3 linked regions of the Homo sapiens genome follow. The protein of the gene in region 3 purifies or fractionates together with the protein of the main gene of each other region. This does not show direct contact. Each region holds a gene or a part of one and is shown on either strand. Other genes may lie near its edges.

The links. The genes of interacting proteins can lie anywhere in the genome.
Region 1: the proteins of KDELR1 (region 3) and TAX1BP1 purify together in Homo sapiens (affinity purification with mass spectrometry; 2 studies listed by BioGRID and IntAct, with this or other methods). This does not show direct contact.
Region 2: the proteins of KDELR1 (region 3) and NPLOC4 purify together in Homo sapiens (affinity purification with mass spectrometry; 2 studies listed by BioGRID and IntAct, with this or other methods). This does not show direct contact.

What each region holds. Positions count from the first base shown.
Region 1 is NC_000007.14:27,785,145-27,792,167, forward strand, and holds part of TAX1BP1 (tax1-binding protein 1), read left to right. Parts: intron 1-18; coding exon 19-167; intron 168-254; coding exon 255-345; intron 346-2,273; coding exon 2,274-2,459; intron 2,460-6,861; coding exon 6,862-7,023.
Region 2 is NC_000017.11:81,606,107-81,613,129, reverse strand, and holds part of NPLOC4 (nuclear protein localization protein 4 homolog), read left to right. Parts: intron 1-2,871; coding exon 2,872-2,920; intron 2,921-4,307; coding exon 4,308-4,402; intron 4,403-6,315; coding exon 6,316-6,439; intron 6,440-7,023. UniProt on the Homo sapiens protein: The ternary complex containing UFD1, VCP and NPLOC4 binds ubiquitinated proteins and is necessary for the export of misfolded proteins from the ER to the cytoplasm, where they are degraded by the proteasome.
Region 3 is NC_000019.10:48,388,552-48,396,328, reverse strand, and holds the start of KDELR1 (ER lumen protein-retaining receptor 1), read left to right. Parts: upstream 1-4,777; 5' UTR 4,778-4,970; coding exon 4,971-5,061; intron 5,062-5,804; coding exon 5,805-5,905; intron 5,906-6,617; coding exon 6,618-6,776; intron 6,777-7,777. UniProt on the Homo sapiens protein: Receptor for the C-terminal sequence motif K-D-E-L that is present on endoplasmic reticulum resident proteins and that mediates their recycling from the Golgi back to the endoplasmic reticulum.

The DNA of each region.
Region 1 (7,023 bases), on a different chromosome or scaffold from region 3:
CTTGTTGTCACTTCTCAGGGTCTTACTGAAGTAACACAAAGCTTAAAAATGGAAAATGAAGAGTTTAAGAAGAGGTTCAGTGATGCTACATCCAAAGCCCATCAGCTTGAGGAAGATATTGTGTCAGTAACACATAAAGCAATTGAAAAAGAAACCGAATTAGACAGGTATTTCTCATGCTTTTAAAAAATAAATTCAATAAAAATTTTAAAACTTTAAAACATTATAATGTTACTTTATCATACCTATCTTAGTTTAAAGGACAAACTCAAGAAGGCACAACATGAAAGAGAACAACTTGAATGTCAGTTGAAGACAGAGAAGGATGAAAAGGAACTTTATAAGGTAATTTATTTTTTACCATATCTATTGCCTGTTGCTTCAAAAGAAATGACCCCAGAACTTAGGGGCTGTAGGTCAGCAATTTAGGAGCAGCTTAGCTGAGTGGTTCTGGCTCTAGCCTCTTGTGTAGTTGCAGTCAGGATGTTGGCAAGGGGTGCAGTCAGCTAAGGGCTTGATTGGGACTGGAGGGTTTGCTTTCAAGATGGCTTACTCCAGTGGCTTTTGGCAGGAGAACCTTCAGCTCCTCTTGAAGTGGTCTTTTCATAGGCTGCTTGAATATCCTCACAGCATGGCAGCTAGCTTCTCTCAGAGTGAGTGATCCAGGAGAGAGCAAGGAGGAAGTCACAGTCATGTTGTATATCACCCCTAAAAGTTAGTTTTCAGGGAATTAATTTGCTGCTGTTTTAGATACTTAACAGGTAGTGTGTAATAAGTTGAAGAGGTTTAATGGAATTAAGATACTTGTTTATCACAATTCATGTAACTATTTTTCCTTTTTAAGAACATATATATATATACACATTGGGGAGAACATTAATTTAGTAATAATCCCATTTTAGAGTTTGACTTTTAGAATATCTTCAGAGATGTCATTTTGTAAAAATATCCTCACTGCTAACAAATCTTGACCGCTTGAAGTTTTGAATTTTTTTTTTTTTTTTTGAGATGGAGTCTCGCTCTGTCGCCCAGGCTGAAGTGCAGTGGTGCGATCTCGGCCCACTGCAAGCTCTGCCTCTCGGGTTCACGCCATTCTCCTGCCTCAGCCTCCCGAGGACCTGGGACTACAGGTGCCCGCGACCACGTCCGGCTAATTTTTTGTATTTTTTTAGTAGAGACGAGGTTTCACCATGTTAGCCAGGATGGTCTCGATCTCCTGACCCGCCTCAGCCTCCCAAAGTGCTGGGATTACAGGCGTGAGCCGCCGTGCCTGGCAGTTTTTATTTATTTATTTTTTTAAGCAACCCTGAAATATAGGGTAGTTAGCTTAATTGTCAGTAATGCTGTGGGTGCAAATTGAGACTTATTTTTTTAAGTGGCTCATAAGCATTTCCTGAAGGCAATTCCAGATGAGGAATTTCAAGAACATTCTGAGTTAAGTCCGTTTCTTGTTAAGTCAATTTAATGAGCTGATGATTATGAACATCAGGTAGCGTTTTAAAGTGATGCTGCAAGGGTGTTGGTTGCTGATGTCTTCAGAGAATCAGGAGTTAATATTCTATCCTTGTGAACAGGAATTAGTCCTTCAGCATTCTGTATATTTAAAGAGTAAAGTGCAAGAAGTAAGTTAATTCATTTCTCCTCAGTACTCTTAACGAAAGCAGGATATACTTGATAGTGTACACTACAGGTCTGTATTTATAATTCCAGTTATTGAATTTGATTTGTATGTGTGTTAGGAGCAAATCAGCAATAGCGAGAGTCATGGGAAAATCAATATAGTTGGGTTAGTCAACAAATACATTTTTCAGCACATTGAAACTAAATGATATCGTACTTTTCGCCTGCAGAAAATGGAATTGTTTGAGATGTTGTTTTTGAATGCACCCCTTCTAGTTTTCCAGAGTCTTGTCGTGCCAGATTTGAATATGCCAAATAACATAATTTGTTTCCCCAAAAGAACAACCAAATCTATTTGCATTTTTAAAGAGAACCTGAAACCATTAAATCAAAGGAAAAGACTTTAGAGATCAGGTGATGTTGTTAGGGCTTAGAATAATCTCTCTGGAAAATAAAAAAGCTTAGAAAAGCTGTGTTCTGCTCCTGCATGCTTAACTAGTCATTTGGCAGAACCTGGGTCTCCTAAATCCTAGTCTAGTATGTCTTTCCTTCCTTTCGTTGTCTTTGGGTTAGAAATATAATGGTATTTTAAACTTTGACTAACTTAGGTCATGGAGTTAGAATATTCTTGACATTTTCAAACACCATTACAGGTACATTTGAAGAATACAGAAATAGAAAATACCAAGCTTATGTCAGAGGTCCAGACTTTAAAAAATTTAGATGGGAACAAAGAAAGCGTGATTACTCATTTCAAAGAAGAGATTGGCAGGCTGCAGTTATGTTTGGCTGAAAAGGAAAATCTGCAAAGAACTTTCCTGCTTACAACCTCAAGTAAAGTAAGTACTTTTGCTATATATATTTGAAGATTGTAAAACATACCTATGAAATGTATGCAATATGATTTTCATTTTTAATTCCCCCAAGCTTTTGTTCTAAAAAAGTTCAAACTTACAAAACAGTTGGAAGAACAGAACAATGAATACTGATGTACCCTAAAATATTTTGCCATTCTTTGTTTTATCTCCCTCATTTATATGCCTTTTTTTCTGAGCGATGTGAGTTGCAAGTATTACGATAATTTACTCTAAATACTTTAGCATGTCTCCCTTATGAACAAGTGCATTCTTCTTCATAGCCATGACACCGTTATTACACCTAAGAATTTAGCACTGATTGAATAACAGTCATTCTCATAGTTAGTTCACAATCACATTGCCCCAAATGTATTCTTATATAATCTTTAAAATTTTGTGATTCACAGTTAGTCAAAGACTACATATTATTTTGATTGTTGTATTTTGAGTCGGTTTCAGTCTAGAATAGTGTCCCTACACTTTTTATGACATTGATATTTTTGGAGAAGACAGGCTAGTCTGAGAAAATGTTCTATAATCTGGATTTGTCTGTTGTTTCTCATGACTAGATTCAGGTGAGACATTTTTGCAAGAAAAGACATAGATGATGTTTTGTCCATCCTGTTGGAGTCATATCAAAAGTTATATAATGTCAATTTGTTTCGTTCTTGATAATGTTAGGTTTAATAATTTGTTTAAAGTTATGCCTACCTGTCTCTATATAGGTGCCTTTCTTTTCTTTCCCTGTTTGTGATTATTAAGCAATCTGTATAAACACCCTGTTCTCCAACAGCCTTTCCTCAATGTTTTTATTGTCCTTTGATGCTCCTCACCTGCATCAGCTATTATGTTGGTAATAATTAATGATAGAAAAATGGTGATTTAAAAAATTCTATTATGCCTTCTACATTTATTTGTAGGTAATCTTTTATCATGAGGACATTCCTGTCACCCTTCCCTCTTTTTTAAATATAACTTTGGACTTACTGATTTTTTGCTGCATATTATGCATAATCATCATTATTCTTTTTCATACCCAAATTGTTCTGAATTTAACCAGGGGAACCTTTTCAAGCCTGCTTTTTTGTCCTGATATGTTCCTATAATGCTTTGAATACTTTCTTGCTTTATGGCACAACTGTATGTTCTAACTTCAGGTTGTTCCCCCAGACCTGATATTACCATTTCTCCAAGAAACTCTGTTTTTTTTAGTAGGTAATGGTATTTTGAAACCAAGAACTGGATCCTATTGCTACTATGGGGCTGCTGCTTTGCACATTCAGTGGGTATTTTGCATCTTTAATTTATATTGATAGCTCCAATTCAGATTTAGTACCTTAGGATTCTTCCTTCCTTTGCTCCATTCCATATTTATATCTCTCTTCTCGCAATGTGAGAACTCTTGTTTCCCAAACATCATTATTACTCATGTGTTTCCATCCAGCCGTACACACCAGTGTTTTCACAATTATTACATCAATGCCACTTCCAACAATAAATGTACTAAATAAAGCTAAGGTATTTTTACAGCTCTTTTTTCTTAGAATATGTTTCACTAAGGATGTATAGAAACGCCATGTTCAAAAGTTACTTGAACTATTTTTTTGCATACCTATGTTATAAATTTGTAATATAATTTCATTTGCTTGTATTTAATTTTAATATTTGCTTTTATTCTTCTGTTTGATTTATTTTTATTGTTTGAATATGTAAAACAGTTGCTTTGTTCAGAAGTCAAAATGATAGAAAAATTTTACTCTGAGGTCTCAATCTCTTCCTTGTTTTTTTAAACCCTTTTCTTACCTATGCCCATAGATAAACATTTTCATAAGTTTCTAGTTTATTCTTATGTTTCTTTTTGTAAAAATAAGCTTATATATGCATGTGTACATGTACATACATCCTTCTTTATCCTCTTCGTTCTTAAAAAAGGTAGCGCTACTATACATACCATTTTGCACCTTTTTCTCACTGAACAAAATAAGTTGCTAGTTACTCCATATCAGTTTGTAGAGATCTTCCTCATTTGAAAAAAATGGCCACATAATATTCCATTATATAGATTTACCTTGATTGATTCATTATTTCTTATGATGTTATTTTTAGTAATTTGCTATTAAAAATACTCAGACATAGTTAATGTAATACCTAAAACGTCAGAAGCGCATGACATTTAGAATTAATGGTTAATCCTTGTTACTTTTTAATGTAACAGATTGCCAGTGCAAACATGAGAAGTGTATTTGATTATTTGTTATTTAATAAGATGCTAAAAATTTCTCTAAGCATCTTTTTCCTATTTAAGCAAGACTTCTGTGAGGAAAAGCGTAGTTATGGAAGTACCTGAGAAAAATGACTACTAGTTGCTAAAGCTTTTAAAAGATTGTGAAAGTAGTTTGAGGTGATGGTTATAAAAAAATTTAAACAGTACATGAGGATACAAAGTAAAATGTAATCCTCATCCCTTCTCAGATAAGTAAGTTATTATTGAATTTATGAATATACGTATATTTATATTTTAACACAAATTAGAATTTATACATTTTTTCCTTTTAAAAAAATTTATAAATGGATATCTTGCACTATGATACACATGTGGATCTTTTTCATTCATCATAACAACTGCCTAGTATTTCTTCTCTTCATTTAACAACTGTGTAGTATATGTTTTTTGATTGTTTTTGATTGTTTATAGTCTTCAGCTTTTATAAGCATCCTGCAGTAAACATCCTTATAGCAATATGTAGGCACATTTATAATCCGTAGAATAAGTTCTTTCAAGTGGAATTACTGGGTCAATGAGTATTTAAATTTTGATAGTTATTTTCAAATTACCTTTCAAAAAAATGTTCTATTGATTTTTTTATTCCCACCAAGAGTATATGAGATATGTATTGTTTGTAATGTCTGCACAGACTTTGATTATATAGAGGTAGTATATCATAGTTTATCATAAATTCTCATGTTGGTAGACATTTTAGGTTCTTAATGATTTTTCATTATTTTAGTATTTTATTGAATCCTTGTAAAGCTAAACCTATGTCTATACCCTTTGATAATTTTCTTGGAAACTTATGGAAATAAAATTGCTAGATCAAAAGCTGTGAGAATTTTTAAGGTGCTGATGAATGTTGTAAATATCTGATGAGAAAAGATGCCAGTTACAGTTTATATAAGCCCACCTGTTTGTGAATGTGCCAGTTGCCCTAAACCCATGCAAATATTGGAATGTTACTGTTTTTTTGATCTTTGTTAGTTTGAAAGGTGAATGGCATTTGTTTTAACTTATTTGTTTGATTGTTGGTGAGTTGAATTTTTTTACTGCATAATCGCATTTATTTCTTTAGAAAATTTTGTATGTTCATGACTTTTGACTTTTGTTTTGTTTCTCCTTATTGACTAGAAAAGTTATTTATATCAAGTATTATTATACCTTTCTTGAATATATTACATATAATTTTCTTCTAGTTCTTTTTCTTCTCCTTTGACATATAGAAGTTGGCGATCTTTTTATAGGTAGATCTATTAGTGTGATGCCTCCGAAGATTTTGTCCATGCCAACACTGCATAAAATCATCATTTACATTTCCTTCTAAGGGGCTAACAGTTTAGAAACCAATATTGGGTTGCATTTTTTTCCTGATTTTACATTATTTTTAGTACAGAGATTAAAAACAGGAAGTTGAATAAACTAAATTTATTGTGTTTATAATGTTTAAATGTTATAATGTTTAAACATTAATATTAAAGGAAATAATTTCACCATGGCAATTTTAGCTTTTTAAAGATACTTTTAGGTTTGTCAAGCAGTATGAATTACTTTTCATTTTCCCAATGCCTCGTCTTTACTATTTGTATATCAATATTTTGTTTTTAGAACTAAGGCCTAAATCTGTTCTGTGTTTTTATAATGATATGAAATAGATTTATATTATATTGGATGTCTCTTGGGGTAGAAAGTAGGAAACATCTTTTAACCAAAATTTTTGGTGTTACAAAGAAGCTTTCGGAATGATTTTTACTGGTAGTCATACAAAATGAGGGTCAGTATTTCTAGCTGAAGAGATTCTGGGGGATGGGATCTTTTGTTTGAGCCTCAGTTTGGGCAGGTCCTTAAGCACTGGGTATGTTGCCTGACTCGCTGTACTTTAGCTTCCTTGTGTATAAAGTAGTAGCAGTGAAACCAAGTACATAGGGTTGTTATAGAGGGAACCTAAAACAAAGTTACTTCTTAAGTTTTTTGTAGGCATATACTCTGTAAGTCATGAGTAGAAAAACCAATATCTAAAATTTTGGCCCTGTTGAAATATGTGCGAAAATTGTTTCTGCTTCTGTTTTTTACTTGAGTGGTTGAATTACAAATATATTTATCTGCTTTCTTCAGGAAGATACTTGTTTTTTAAAGGAGCAACTTCGTAAAGCAGAGGAACAGGTTCAGGCAACTCGGCAAGAAGTTGTCTTTCTGGCTAAAGAACTCAGTGATGCTGTCAACGTACGAGACAGAACGATGGCAGACCTGCATACTGCACGCTTGGAAAACGAGAAA
Region 2 (7,023 bases), on a different chromosome or scaffold from region 3:
TTAGCTTTTTATCAGTTTCCACCTCAAAATATGTTCCCATAAAAAATTTTGAAGCATTTGGGTACAAAGAGACTGGAAAGGTATTGGGGGAGTTGGGGGCCTCACACCAAGTCTTTACTGTGATGTCCCCTGGAGATGCTGATTCCCGTGCAGAGTGGGGTGTTAATCAGCAGCTGCAGGGGAGGGAGGAGGGAAGGGGCAGGTGGTTGTGTGTGCGCATCCATGTGAGGTGAGTGCTGTGTCTCTCATTTCATAGCGGTTGGATGATTTTGACCTGCCACACTAGTGTGCGCTCTCCATCCCTGCAGCAAGCATTTCACTTGCAGAAGATGCTGTGCCTTGGAATATTCCCTCCTCACCTGGGGCTATATGAAGTGCTTATGCATATGTACATTGTTTATTTTAGATTTTTTGCAATTCCTTTTAAATAAACCAGTGAGAAGGATCTGAGTTTATACTTGGCCATGTGAAATTGTCTGAGCGAAGGTTGTCTCTGCAGTGGGGTCTTTTTTAAAATGCATCACTCTGTAGATGTGACGGGGTGCTGACTTTGCGGTATTGGGATTCCAAATGCTGCATTAGCAACTTTTATGTCTTAGATCAGAGAGCCATAAATGGTGCTCTCCTGCCATTGGCATGGAGCCACTTTGTAGCCATAGCCATTAGCCGGCATGCCTCTTCCATTTGTGTCTCCTCCCAGGGGCCTGGCACTGGCTTGCTTGCATGATCTGTGTCTTCATGGCTTCATTAGCAGCTTTTGAGAGCGTGTGTGTGTGAGAGAATTCTGAGCCATCATCACTTAGATCCTGCCTATTAGGAAGCACAGAGGCCACCTCTGTTCCGCAGCACAGGGCTCATACGCATGTAAGAATTCTGACCCCACTTAGAAAGGGGTCTGACTGAGCCCCGGAGGGACGGCCGCCGGCGCCCTCGTAAACCAGCATACCTCTCCTTCAGATTGTGCGTGTTGTGCTCCCAAGGCTTCTGTGACTGAAAATGTTAGAAAGCCGTGGGACAAGGTTTTTTCATTGTTGTTATTTCCCAAAATGCATATGAAGTAGGTATTTTCCAAACTTGGATTATTTATGCACCGCTCTCAGGCCCTTTGCCATGTTCACGTACCAGCTTTGTTATTATTTATTTAACACTTTTCTTTTTTTTTTTTTTTTTGAGATGGACTCTCGCTCTGTCACCCAGGCTGGAGTGCAGTGGCGCGACGTCCGCTCACTGCCAGCTGCGTCCCCCCGGTTCACGCCATTCTCCTGCCTCAGCCTCCCAAGTAGCTGGGACTACAGGCGCCCGCCACCACGCCTGGCTAATTTTTTTGTATTTTTAGTAAAGACGGGGTTTCACCGTGTTTGCCAGGATGGTCTCTATCTCCTGACTTGTGATCCACCCGCCTCGGCCTCCCAAAGTGCTGGGATTACAGGGCGCAAGCCACCACACCTGGCCTATTTAACACTTTTCTTTAAATGGACTTGGCCAGGCGCAGTTGCTCACACCTGTAATCCCAGCACTTTGGGAGGCTGAGGCAGGTGGATCACCTGAGGTCAGGAGTTTGAGACCAGCCTGACCAATATGGTGAAATCCCGTCTCTACTAAAAATACAAAAATTAGCCAGGCATGGTGGTGTGCACCTGTAGTCCCAGCTACTTGGGAGGCTGAGACAGGAGAATCGCTTGAAACGAGGAGGCGGAGGTTGCATGGAGCCGAGATCATACCTCTGCACTCCAGCCTGGGTGACAGAGTGAAACTCCGTCTCAGAAAAAAAGAAAACAAAAAAAAAACTATTTTATTTATTTATTTATTTGAGTGGAATTTCACTCTCGTCTCCCAGGCTGGAGTGCAGTGGCACAATCTCAGCTCATCGCAACCTTTGCCTCCCAGGTTCAAGCAATTCTCCTGCCTCAGCCTCCCTGGTTCCTGGCATTACAGGTGCTTGCCACCACGTCCGGCTAATTTTTGTATTTTTAGTAGAGATGGGGTTTCACCATGTTGGCCAGGCTTGTCTTTAACTCCTGACCTCAGGTGATCCACCCATCTCAGCCTCCCAAAGTGTTGGGATTAGAGGTGTGAGCCACTGCCTTTGGCCAATAAACTACTTACATTGACTTTGAGTTCATTCACTTTTATCTTTGGTTTGTGTCATTTTTTTTTTTTTTTTTTTTTTTGAGACGGAGTCTCGCTCTGTCGCCCAGGCCGGACTGCGGACTGCAGTGGCGCAATCTCGGCTCACTGCAAGCTCCGCTTCCCGGGTTCACGCCATTCTCCTGCCTCAGCCTCCCGAGTAGCTGGGACTACAGGCGCCCGCCACCGCGCCCGGCTAATTTTTTGTATTTTTAGTAGAGACGGGGTTTCACCTTGTTAGCCAGGATGGTCTCGATCTCCTGACCTCATGATCCACCCGCCTCGGCCTCCCAAAGTGCTGGGATTACAGGCGTGAGCCACCGCGCCCGGCCTGGTTTGTGTCATTTTAAGCAGTGGATACCCATGAAGTCACAGGTTTGATGTGCGGGTCAGTTTTTTCTAATTCATATCAACATAAGTAGTAAACTTCTGGGTGTGGTGGTGTACACCTGGAGTCCCAGATACTCGGGGAGGCTGAGGTGGGAGTGCTTGAGCCCAGGAGGTGAAGGCTGCAGGGAGCCACGATCACCACTGCACTCCAGCCTGGGCGATAGAGTGAGAGCCTGTCTTTAAACAAAACAAAACAACAATTAAAATATAAATGTTTATCCATGTGCCATCTGGAATATAACTCCACGTGGGCAGGGAAACACTCTGTTAAAGTAGGACGTGCATGTGAGACAGCAGCAGCGGAACACAGACATCCTCACTGCTCTGCCTTTTTCTGCCTTGTACTCTCCTCAGATGCCGCCACGGCCCTTTGGGGAAATGCGTGCACTGCGTCCCTCTAGAGGTGAGAGTCTCTGCGGAGTAAGTTCTGGGCCAGTGTGGGGGGCTGCGGGTAGACAGCTGTCTTAAGTGCTTGCCCTGAGTCCACGCACTTGGCTGTAGTGAGTGGTTCAAAGAACTTACCTATTTATTGCCCTGGGCCTCATATTCCCCTAGTGCAAGCTGCACACAGGACGAGCCTTTATTTATGGGAGTGACCTTCTCGCTGGATTATGAATGGCTGAAGCATTTGTGTGGCTGTGATAAAGGGGCAGCATTTACAGCGGGCTCCCTGGACAATCCTTTTCCGATCTGACACAAAGCTGAGCCTGTCGGCCTCCGTGCTTATCATTGTTGATTTACTTTGCCTTGAATCTCACATCTCTTCTACTGGTTTGTCCTGGTGAGACTGAGAGTTACCGTAATAATGCCGACTGGAACTGTTAATGCTGGGTTTACAGCAGGAAGGCCAGCCCGATTTTCTTCATGAGGCATCTCTTGCCTCATCTTGTGGCATTTCTTTTTGCACAATTTTCCTGAAACTCATTTGACTTAGAGCGTTTTGTGTTTAATAGAGATTCATTTTAATCTTGAAAAGATAACTGGCACACAAAGAAAAACTTGCTTCTGGCTATGTGCAGTGACGCCTGTAGTCCCGACACTTTGGGAGGCCAGGGCCAGAGGATCATTTGAGCCTAGGAATTGTTCAGCCTGGGCAACTCTTTTTTTGTATACCCTGTCTCTACAAAAAATTTAAAAAATTAGCTGGGTGTGGTGGTTCACGCCTGTAGTCCCAGCTACTCAGGAAGCTGAGGCAAGAGAATCACTTGAGGTCGAGGCTGCAGTGAGCCATGATTGCACCACCATACTCCAACCTGGGCAACAGCATGAGACCCCATCTCTAAAACAGTTAAATTGGCCAGACTCAGTGGCTCACGCCTGTAAAGCTAACACTTTGGGAGGCCAAGGCGGGTGGATCATGAGGTCAGGAGTTTGAGACCAGCCTGGCCAATATGCTGAAACCCCGTCTCCACTAAAAATACAAAAATAAGCTGGGCGTGGTGGCGTGCACCTGTAGTCCTAGCTACTTGGGAGGCAGAGGCAGAAGAGTTGCTTGAACCCAGAGGTGGAGGTTGTAGTGAGCAGAGACTGTGCCACTGTGCCACTGCACTCCAGCCTGGGCGACAGAGTGAGACTCCGTCTCAAAACAAACAAACAAAAAACAATTAATTAAAAAAAGAAAAACTTGGTTCTGACTCAGAGTGGTAAGGGAGACCCTAGTACCTGCTTTCACTGTGGGCCTTGACTTGCCAAGGCCATGCTGCTGGCCTCCCCCTGTGCGTAGCAGAGGCTCAGCGCCTGGAGTGACCGGCACGTGTGAGACTGCACTCGCTTACTCTGTGTCTTGGCAGCCATTCGATGAGGACTATCTAAACCATCTCGAGCCTCCCGTGAAGCACATGTCCTTCCACGCCTACATCCGGAAGCTGACTGGAGGGGCTGACAAGTAAGCAACTTGCTGTAACCTGGTTGTGCGTAAATTCCTTTTTGTGTAGCTGGCAGTTGTTGCTTATAGCCAGTGAACGTGTGAATGAGAGAAGTAAAGATGAGAAGGGGTCACACGCCTTTGAAAGTTACCGTGGTTCTATATTTATTTATTTATTTTTTATGTACTCATATATGTTTTTAAGAGATGGGGTCTCACTATGTTGCCCAGGCTGGTCTAGAACTCCTTGGCTCAAGTGATCCTCCTGCCTTGGTTTCCCCAAAGTGCTGGATTACAGGTGTGAGCCACCTCGCCTGGCCAACCTGGTTCTAGAAGGGAGCTAGCAAGGCAGAGCGACTGTGCAGGCGCCTGGCTGCGTGGCCACAGTGCAGTATCAGACAGAGGCTGTCCCCACACACACCACCCCAGCAAGTTAGCATCTGTGATGGTGGCCTGTTGATTCTGTGGTCTGAGTTCATTCTCTGCTTTTCAGAAAAACAACTACCCTGTGAGAATCTCAGCTTCCCCACCTCAGTGCCTGGTAACCCTTTCCCCAGAGCCTGGCCTCTGAGTCAGCTTGGTTTTCAGCCACAGCAGGGGCTGCAGCCACTAATCCTCATGGTACCACAGTAGTTGCCCACAGGCTCAGCCAGGTGGGCAGAGGTGGTAACAGTGGCCAGAAAGGGGTGAACTGAGCATTTTGATTTCTTTTAAGCCATGGCAAGCCCTTGCCTGTATGACCTTCTCCTGTTGGCTCTCTGTACACCCTACCAGAAAGTAGCAGGCTTCAGCTATTATTTTATAATTCCTGTCAGTGCAACGAGGAGATGGTGGCTGAACTGAAGTCAGCAACATTTTGTGAAGGATGTCATATTCGCCTGATTGTAGCTTTTCTCTGACAACCTGCTGACATCCTAAAATGACTTTTTAAAAATGTTAGACCAGAAGAAAAAACCTGCTAGAAACCCACTGTTGCTTGTCAGTGGGGAAAGCTGTGGAACTCTCTGGACTAAGGAGTGGGTGCAGATTGATTGTAGTGAAAGAGACTTGGTCAGCCTTTCTCAGTCTAGGTCAAGGAACACAGTCTCTAGTGGGGGCGTGTTTGTGGCTGCTGTTAGCATGCAGATTCAGTGACGAGTCTTTGCTTCCTAGATGCTATGATACCAAAAATGGCTCACCACCAAAAATGATCAGTATGTGAGGTAATGCATATGTTAATTAGCTCAATTTAGCCGTTCCACAGTGTGGACATGTTTCAGAATATCATTTCGTACACTGTAAATATATCGTTTTTATTTGAAAAACAAAACCTCACGTCTACCTTAAAGATACAGATTTCTTTTTTTTTTTTTTTTGTCAGTTATATTTCAATAAAGCTGGAGAAAAAGAAAAAGTTCAGAGTAGGGTCCAGGATTTTCTCATTGACAGTCTTCAACAGTAGTTTTTATTTTAGCCTAAAGCAGAGTAAAGATGCCTTAATTATATATCCTAATCAGATTTTTCCCATGAATAAGAATTTTTTACAAATATCTAAGTACTGGGCTAATGTCAAAGTTTCTGACAATTTAATGAAACCTGTAGGAGCCTCATGCCCGCTCAGTGGCACAGGTGAGATCAGTAGATATTCTACAGTATTCTTGAAAGCTTTCTCGGATGTTAGTGATAGATGGTAAAAAACACCACAGTTTGGTAGGAAAGTAGTTGTGTGTTCCTGTATGGTTGAAGTATGTGGGACAGAAGCTGGGATTCGGAATGTGCTGGAACTGTAGGTAGAGCTTCCATTAGAATCATCCTTAGCCCATCTTCCCTGCTGCTGCCACGTGCTTAGCTCCTGAGACACTGTTCAGGAGGTATAAGATACTTAGCATGTCATTTCCAGCCTCTTGCTCAACTTTTCACCAATGTGATGTTTAAGTTGCTTCTCTTCTATGTAGGGGGAAGTTTGTTGCCCTGGAGAACATCAGCTGCAAGATTAAGTCAGGGTGCGAGGGGCACCTCCCGTGGCCGAATGGCATCTGTACTAAGTGCCAGCCGAGCGCCATCACGCTGAACAGACAGGTGAGATGTTCCCTGTCTGTCTAGATTTGTTTTCATGGCTGAGAAACGGATATTTCCAGAAGAGCCCCTTGGAGTGGAATGCTATTAGCACTATGCGTGGTGGATTTTCAGTACTTTTTGATGGACTGAATGATCCTTTTGTGGAAGTGGTACACTGAATATATCATTTTTAAGGCTTCTTGCTCTTGGAGATATGGAGTGCGCGCCCTCAGTTCTCTGTTTTGCTGGCTCATATGGAGGCAGAATGTTCCTGATGATTATTTAAAATCCTCAGTGGTTGTGAGGAAACTGGCTCTGAAGGTTGGTAAAGGGGCACCCCTTGGACCAGCTCTGAGCACCTGTCCAGGCTGGCTTAAGGAGAGAATGTGGCTCAGGAAGGAGGGAGCGTTCCGGCCTTTCTGGATGTTCTGCTGTCCTTGTCCCGCCTCTGAGTAGCCTGCCTCGCCTTCCTCCTGCCGCTGTGCCCTTAGAGAAAACGGCTCCTTAGAGAGAATTCCGTGGCCTCCTCGACTTTTTTGGAAACCTCCTATTCTCTATTCCTTTTTTCTTCTTGAAAACTACTTTATTTTGGCCGGGCAAGGTGG
Region 3 (7,777 bases):
AACCACAGGGATTAGGGAGAGCAGCCTCCCCCACTCCAGGGCCTGAGGAGGGGCATCCCCAGTCCTCCAGGACTCTGAAGGCCCAACCCCCAGAACCCACGCCCTCAGGGATCACAGAGTCCAGCCTCTGGACAACCCCCCGCTCCCCCCGCCTCCATCTCTACCTCCTCATGAGCCTCCGTTTCCACTTCCATCTGCATAGGGCTAAAGTCCCCAACACTCATCTCCTGCCCTGTCAGGGACTCAGGAGACTGAGCTCCCAGCCTGCCTTCCTCAGACGGAAGCGCTATCCCCTACCTCCTCCCGTAAAGACCCAGGAGTCCTTCTGGCAGCCCCTTCCTCCCCCAGGCCTTGGGAGTCTGGGCATTCGGTCCTGTTCTTTCCCAGGACCCAGGAGGCCAGGCCCCTCCTGCCCCAAGACTCTGGAACTCCAGTGCCCAGCCTCCTCTCCCTGCAGGAACCAAGAGTCCAGGTCCCCAGCTCCCCTCTTCCCCCAAGGACCCAGGAGTCCGGGTTCCGGCTCCTGTCCTCCCTTAAGGATCCCCTTTTGGTTTCAAACCCTATCCTTCCCAACATCCTGGGTGCCCCCCCACCGAGCTCTGGCCTCCCTAGTCACCCCACTTAGATCCTGTACATAGCACAGCCTGTCCCCAAGCGGGGAGGAGGAGGAGGGTGCCAGAAATTCCTAGGGTGTCCCTGTCTTCATTGCCCCCCACAGCATCCAACAGAGAAGAGAGGAGCGGCCACTTCGATCAACAGCTCCCCCCACAACCTCGAGTTGTGCTGCAGACGGCATCCCGTTTCCTCCCCCCTCACCTCCCAACACACACACACAACATCGGTCTCTCCCCACCCGAATCCTGATGCTTGGAAGAGGCTGGAAGGGTGTTCCAGAACCTTGAGGAAGGGGTGGGAGCTTGGGGCGAGGGGTGCTGGGGGCCTGGATGCCCTCAAGGTCCTTGGCGGGGGTATTAATAGCAGACTCATAGCTCTGACATGGGAGGGGAGAGCGAGAGGAGAGAGGGAGAGGACCGGCTCGCGATGGGGGGACTGATGCAGGGAGGGGGGTACAGGGAGAAGGTGAGATAGAGAGATGGAGGCACAGGGATATGGGGCATCAGGTATGTGGGGATGGGGAGAGGGAGCCAAGTGTCAGAGAAATGGGGGCGTGAAAGGTCTGAGGTGTAGGGACTCAGGAAAAAGGGGCTCAGAGAGGGAGAGAGAGAGGGTGGAGGAGAGTCCCTGAGGGACAGGGGAGCTAGGTGGGGGTCAAGACCCCTGCCCACCGTTCAAACCCCCTCCCTCCACGAGGCTTCTTGCCAACTTCCTCTGTCCTAGATTTGGGGGTCCACATTCCCACCACCATCCCTGCATCCCCTGTCCCCGCCTTACCTTTTCATGACCCTGTTCTGTTGGGGGGATGGCGGGGGGGCCAGGACCGGAACCCGGCGTCCAGCGACCCCAAGATTCCGAGGAGGGCTCAGAGAGCCGATGTCGGGGGGCAGGCCCCGGGGCGGCGGCAGTGGTGGTGGCGGCAGCAGCGGCAGCCCGGACCTCCTGTCTGTCCCTGGCTCCGTCTCTCCTTCCTCTTCCTTGGTCCTGTCCTGCCCTGTCTCTCCCCCAAGGTTGCGGCCACCTGGACTAGGCGAGGACGTGGCTACACATGTTGCTCTGGAAGTTGGGCCCCGGACATTGCAGAGGCTGTCGGGGTGTCCTCTTGCCGCCCCGACCCCGTGGGGATCCCCCCTCCGCCCACCCGGGGTGCCCCCCTCTGCCGCTTCAGCCCCGGCTCCTCCCCCCTTTCCATGTGTCCAGTCCCGCCTCTCCCTGGCTCACTCGCACCCCCGCTTTGTGCCCTCAGCCCCCCCACCCCCCCTTCCAGCGTCTGTGTCTATCTGTCTGTCTGGGTCACCTCTGAAGCTAGTGGCTGGTGTGTGCGTGTGAGGAGCGGGAGATTGCCTGCTTGGGGAACTGCTTGCCCCTTCCTCGCTTGGCCACCTCTAGACCCCCCCTTGACTCCCCCACTCTCAAACACAGGCAGAAACACACATACACTCACGCACACACGCACGATCTCACTTCCCTGGGATTCCCCCTCAACACCCCCAGAGCTTGAGGAGGGACACACACACAGACACACACACACAGAGTGGGGGGTCTAATGGGGGCCAGGCTGCCACTGCTGATAGGGGCTGTTTGGACAGACAGGAGGACACAGGCAGCCGGGGACGCCCAGACGCCTGGCCGGACGCAGGCAGGAGGCACAGAACCCAGGTACACACCATCCATCTGGGTTTGGGGGGGCCGGGGGGAAGGAGCGGGAGCCCCACGACACCCAGGCAGGCAGCTCAGGGTCGGTACAGACAGACAGACCCCTCCCTCCCTCCGCCGCCGCAGCGCTTACAGACACACCCCCCCTCCACCAGCCAGCCCCAGACACCCGGACACACAGATCCTCACCGGGCAGATGGCAGACGCTCGAGAGACCCCTGGGGGCCGGGCCGACCTACCCAGGCAACACCCCCAGCAGGCACCGGTGGCCGAGGGAGGCTGCGGGAGGCTGCGGGCGAGGGTGGCGGCGGCGGCCGCGGCTTGGAGGAGCTGGAGCGGGAGGGACTCACACACTCGCTGTGTTCTCGCACACACACACTCACTCGGGATGCGATTAACATTCAGTCCCCGTCTGCCACTGCCGGGAGACCCACAGCCCCCCCTCCTGGCCTCCCTGGGGACCCCTTCTCCTGCCAGGCTTGGGGAGGGGGCCGCCCCCCACCCCTAGCTACCAGCCTCTGCCTTCCTCCTGGGACAAGGGAGTGAGGGGCTGAAAATAAAAAGGGAGGAAGAAGTCAGGCTGGGGACAGGCAGGCAGGGACTCAGAACCCGGTATGGAGACACCAGCTTCAGAGCTAGACTCCAGGGCTGGGGGTTGCTGCCCTCTGCCCCCGCCCTGCCTTGAGGCTCTGGAAACAGGAGGCCTTTCCCTGACTTCAGTGTTCGCCACACTAAGACCCAAGCTGTGGCTTTTATTGCCCCAGAAGGCCAGGCCTGAAAACCAGGTCTCGACCCTGGTCCCAGGAGTCCCACCCCCCAGCCCCTCCTCCCTCAGACCCAGGAGTCCCCTTCTCTACTGGGACCCAGGAATTTGGGGACCGCCTCCAAGTCGGAGTCTCTTTTAAGGACTCAGTCATCCCGACTCTCCCCCGTACAAGCCACCCTCAGGGACCCAAGACTCGTGGATGTCACCCTTGGGCACCCCGTCCTTCCAGCCCTCTGAAGAAATCAACACGCCTGCACCCCTTCTTTTATTGAGGGACCCTGGCCTCCATCATCTGTGGGTACCCCATCATCCGGAAGGGAAGCCACGTCTGTCCCCTCATAGATGCAGGAGTCCAGACCACAGGCTGTTCCCCGGGGGTCCCACACCCAGATGCCCAGCATTCCCCTCCTGCTAGAGGGCTGGGCCCGGCACTTTTATAAAGCCACCCGTGGGGCTCTGGGGTAGAGCGTGGGGCAGGACACCGGGGCCTCTGAGGGTGGAAGAGGGTGTGTGTGTGTGGGCAGGGCAGAAACTCTGGAGCAGGGGGGAAGCCAGGGCCAGGGGCTCCTGAGGTAGTTTGGGTCAGAGTTTTGGCCTTGAGCCTCCTGGGTGAGGCTCCTGTTTCCTTCATCCTCAAGGTCTGGGAGAACAGGGTGAGGTGCACATTCCTGAAAAAGAAGAGAATCAGGGCCTAAATCTGTGGGTCGTAAAGGGAGAAACTGTAGATCTAGATTCTTAAGGTTAGGATGTTTGATCCATAAGATGGTGGGGGTGGGACCCTAAGTTCCAAGGAACAGCGTCCTAGGAGGGAAAAGGGCTGGGGCCCTGAACTCCTGGGTCTGAGGGAGGAGGGGCTGGGGCCCTGGACCCCTGGGTCTGAGGGAGGAGGGGCTGGGGCCCTGGACCCCTGGGTCTGAGGGAGGAGGGGCTGGGGCCCTGGACCCCTGGGTCTGAGGGAGGAGGGGCTGGGGATCTGGACTCCTGGGTCTGAGGGAGGAGGTGCTGGGGGTCTGGACTCCTGGGTCTGAGGGAGGAAGGGCTGGGGGCCTGGACTCCTGGATCTGGGGGAGGAGGGTCTGGGGGCCTGGAGTCCTGGGTCTGAGGGAGGAGGCTGGGGGCCTGGACTCCTGGGTCTGAGGGAGGAGGCTGGGGGCCTGGACTCCTGGGTCTGAGCGAGGAGGAGCTGGGCCTGGACTCCTGGATCTGAGGGAGGAGGGGCTGGGGGTCTGGACTTCTGGGTCTGAGGGAGGAGAGGCTGGGGGTCTGGACTCCTGGGTCTGAGGGAGGAGGGGCTGGGGACCCAGACTTCTGGGTTTGACGAACGGGCTGGGGCCTTGAGTCCTGGGTCTAGGGGAGGAAGTAGGTGGGGTATCTTTCTTGTCTTCTGGGGGATTGGAGTTAGAGTGCCTGAAAGCTGCAAAAGCTAGCAGCTGAGCCTCCGGGTCCCTGCAGGATTTTTCAAGCTCAGAGGGCAGTCTCTACATCCCTGCAAGGGCTGAGGCTGGTGTACTGGACTGCGTCTCTTCCAGAGACACAGACTGCCTGGGCGAACCGGTGCTGGATTTGGCACTTTCCGAACCCTGCGACCCTCCCAAGTTCCTATGGGGCAGCTTTGGGGGTGCGTTTAGCGCCGCCACGGCAAAGCAGGAGGTGGGCGATAGGGGGCGCCGGGGATCCAGGCCCCGCCCTCGGGGGCGGAGCCTCTCCTCCCGGACTCCTCCCCCTCTCGCTCTCCTCCCTCTTCCCGGCTCCAGCTCCGCCGCCAGCTCCAGCCTTTGCTCCCCCTCCCAAAGTCCCCTCCCCGGAGCGGAGCGCACCTAGGGTCCCTCTTCCGTCCCCCCAGCCCAGCTACCCGTTCAGACCAGCAGCCTCGGGGGGCACCCCCCCGCCAGCCTGCCTCCCTCCCGCTCAGCCCTGCCAGGGTTCCCCAGCCATGAATCTCTTCCGATTCCTGGGAGACCTCTCCCACCTCCTCGCCATCATCTTGCTACTGCTCAAAATCTGGAAGTCCCGCTCGTGCGCCGGTGAGAGGCCCACCAGGGCTGGCGAAGGAGAGAGATTGCGGGCGGGGGTTGGGGGACGTCGCAGGACTCAGGAAGGGTTTGGGGGCACTAGGGGCACAGGTTCCACCCCCACTGCTTGCTGGGGATCTCTCTTCTAGGTTCTGGGTCTCCAGGGGATCAGCTCCCTTCCCCAGACTGGCGGGGGTGCATACAGTTTCATGTGAATGGCTTTAGGCCCCCAATTCAGCCACCCCCAGCCCCAATCTGGGCAGCCCGAGGGTTCATGGACCGGGAACAGGGAACCATGGCAGGCGGGGAGGTGGCTGTGAGTTGGTGACGTGGACCGTGGCGGCCAGGAAGGGAACGGGAGGGAGGTGACCGGATCCGGGGCCTGAGGTCAGGGAAGGTCCTCCCTAGGCCTCACCTCAGGTCCAGACTGCGGGAGGACCCTGAGGGGCCAGGGGTAGCCATGAGGCCTAGTCTGGGACGGAGCCTCGGGCTGGAGTAGCTTCGGGGGCCTGGGCTGCCCCCTGGCTGTGGTCCGTGGGAAAGGGCCCTGCTCAGGCGGGGCGGGCTGGGGAGGCCTCCGGGGACAGCTGCACTCCAGAGCTGCCTCCAGGCTGGTCCCGGGCGCCCTGCCTTAGTTTATTGCCCATGCAGCCCACCCCCAGCTTCCTCTCTCCTTCTGTCTGTCTGTCTGTCTGTCTGTCTCTCTCTCTCTCTCTGTCTCTCTCTCTCTCTCTTTCTCTGTCTCTGGACCACAGGAATTTCAGGGAAGAGCCAGGTCCTGTTTGCTGTGGTGTTCACTGCCCGATATCTGGACCTCTTCACCAACTACATCTCACTCTACAACACGTGTATGAAGGTAGAGGCTCCACCCCACCTCTCTGGCCCCCACTGAGGCAGAGGAGCCGGGTGTGGGTCCCAGACTCCTAGGTCTGAGGGAGGAGGGGCTGGGGGCCTGGACTCCTGGGTCTGAGGGAGGAGGGGCCGGGGGCCTGGACTCTTGGGTCTGAGGGAAGAAGGGACTGAGGCCTGGACTCCTGGGTCTGAGGGAGGAGGGGTTGGGGGTCTGGACTCCTGGGTCTGAGGGAGGAGGGGCCGGGGGCCTGGACTTTTGGGTCTGAGGGAGGAAGGGACTGGGGCCTGGACTCCTGGGTCTGAGGGAGGAGGGGCTGGGCCTGGACTCTTGGGTCTGAGGGAGGAGGGGCTGGGCCTGGACTCCTGGATCTGAGGGAGGAGGGAATGGGGCCCTGGACTCCTGGGTCTGAGGGAGGAGGGGCTGGGGGCCTGGACTCCAGGGTCTGAGGGAGGAGGGGTTGGGGGCCTGGACTCCTGGGTCTGAGGGAGGAGGGGCTGGGGGCTTGGACTCCTGGATCTGAGGGAGGAGGGGTTGGGGGCCTGGACTCCTGGGTCTGAGGGAGGAGGGGCTGGGGGCTTGGACTCCTGGGTCTGAGGGAGGAGGGGTTGGGGGTCTGGACTCCTGCGTCTGAGGGAGGGGCCTGGACTCCGGGCTCTGAGCCTACTGGGGCACAGGCCTGTGAGTTGAGGCCCCTTCTCATCATCCCCCTCCTCAGGTGGTCTACATAGCCTGCTCCTTCACCACGGTCTGGTTGATTTATAGCAAGTTCAAAGCTACTTACGATGGGAACCATGACACGTTCAGAGTGGAGTTCCTGGTCGTTCCCACAGCCATTCTGGCGTTCCTGGTCAATCATGACTTCACCCCTCTGGAGGTAGGCGCCTTGCTGTGACTCCTTATTTGGGGGGATGGTTGTGGCAGAGTAGCTATGACAGGAGACCCTCTCACAGGCTTCCTTCTGCAGGGTGTGCCCAAACTGCCTTATTTTAGGATGCATAAGTTCAGTGCATGGGCTCTGGGGTCAGAGGAAATTAACACAACAGCAGCAAGACTCGCTATGTGTCAGTCACTACCCTAAGCATTTCACCTACTTACTTTTCTCAGCAGCCCCACTTTACAGATGAGGAAACTGAGGCTTAGGGATTCTTTTTTTTCTGGAGACAAAGTCTCGCTCTGTTGCCCAGACTGGAGTGCAGTGGCATGATCTCGGCTCACTGCAACCCCCGCCTCCCAGGTTCAAGCAATTATCCTACCTCAGCCTCCCGAGTAGTTGGGAAGACAGGTGCACATCACCATGCTCTGCTAATTTTTGTATTTTTAGTCCAGACAGGGTTTCACATGTTGACCAGGCTGGTCTTGAACTCCTGGGCTCAAATAATCTGCCTGTCTTGGCCTCCCAAAGTGCTGGGATTACAGGCGTGAGCCACCATTCCTGGCCCAGCCTTCTTGAATTTGAATTCCAAATCTGCTAGTTTCTTTTTTCTTTCTTTCTTTCCTTCTTTCTTTCTTTCTTTCCTTTCTTCCTTTCTTCCTTCCTTTCTTTCTTCCTTCCTTCCTTTCTTTCTTCCTTTCCTTCTTCCTTTCCTCCTTCCTTTCTTCCTTTCCTCCTTCCTTCCTTCCTTTCTTTCTCTTTCTTTCCTTTCTTTCTTTCTTCCTTTCTTTCCTTTCTTTCTTCTTTCCTTCCTTTCTTCCTTTCTTCCTTTTCTTCCTTTTCTTCCTTTCTTTCTTTTTTCCTTTCTCTTTCGACAAAGTCTCGCTCGGTTGCCCAGACTGGAGGCAGTGGCATGATTCTGGCTCACTGCAACCTCCACCTCCCAGGTTCAAGCGATTCTCCTGCCTCAGCCTCCCGAGTAGCTGAGATTGCAGATGCCCACC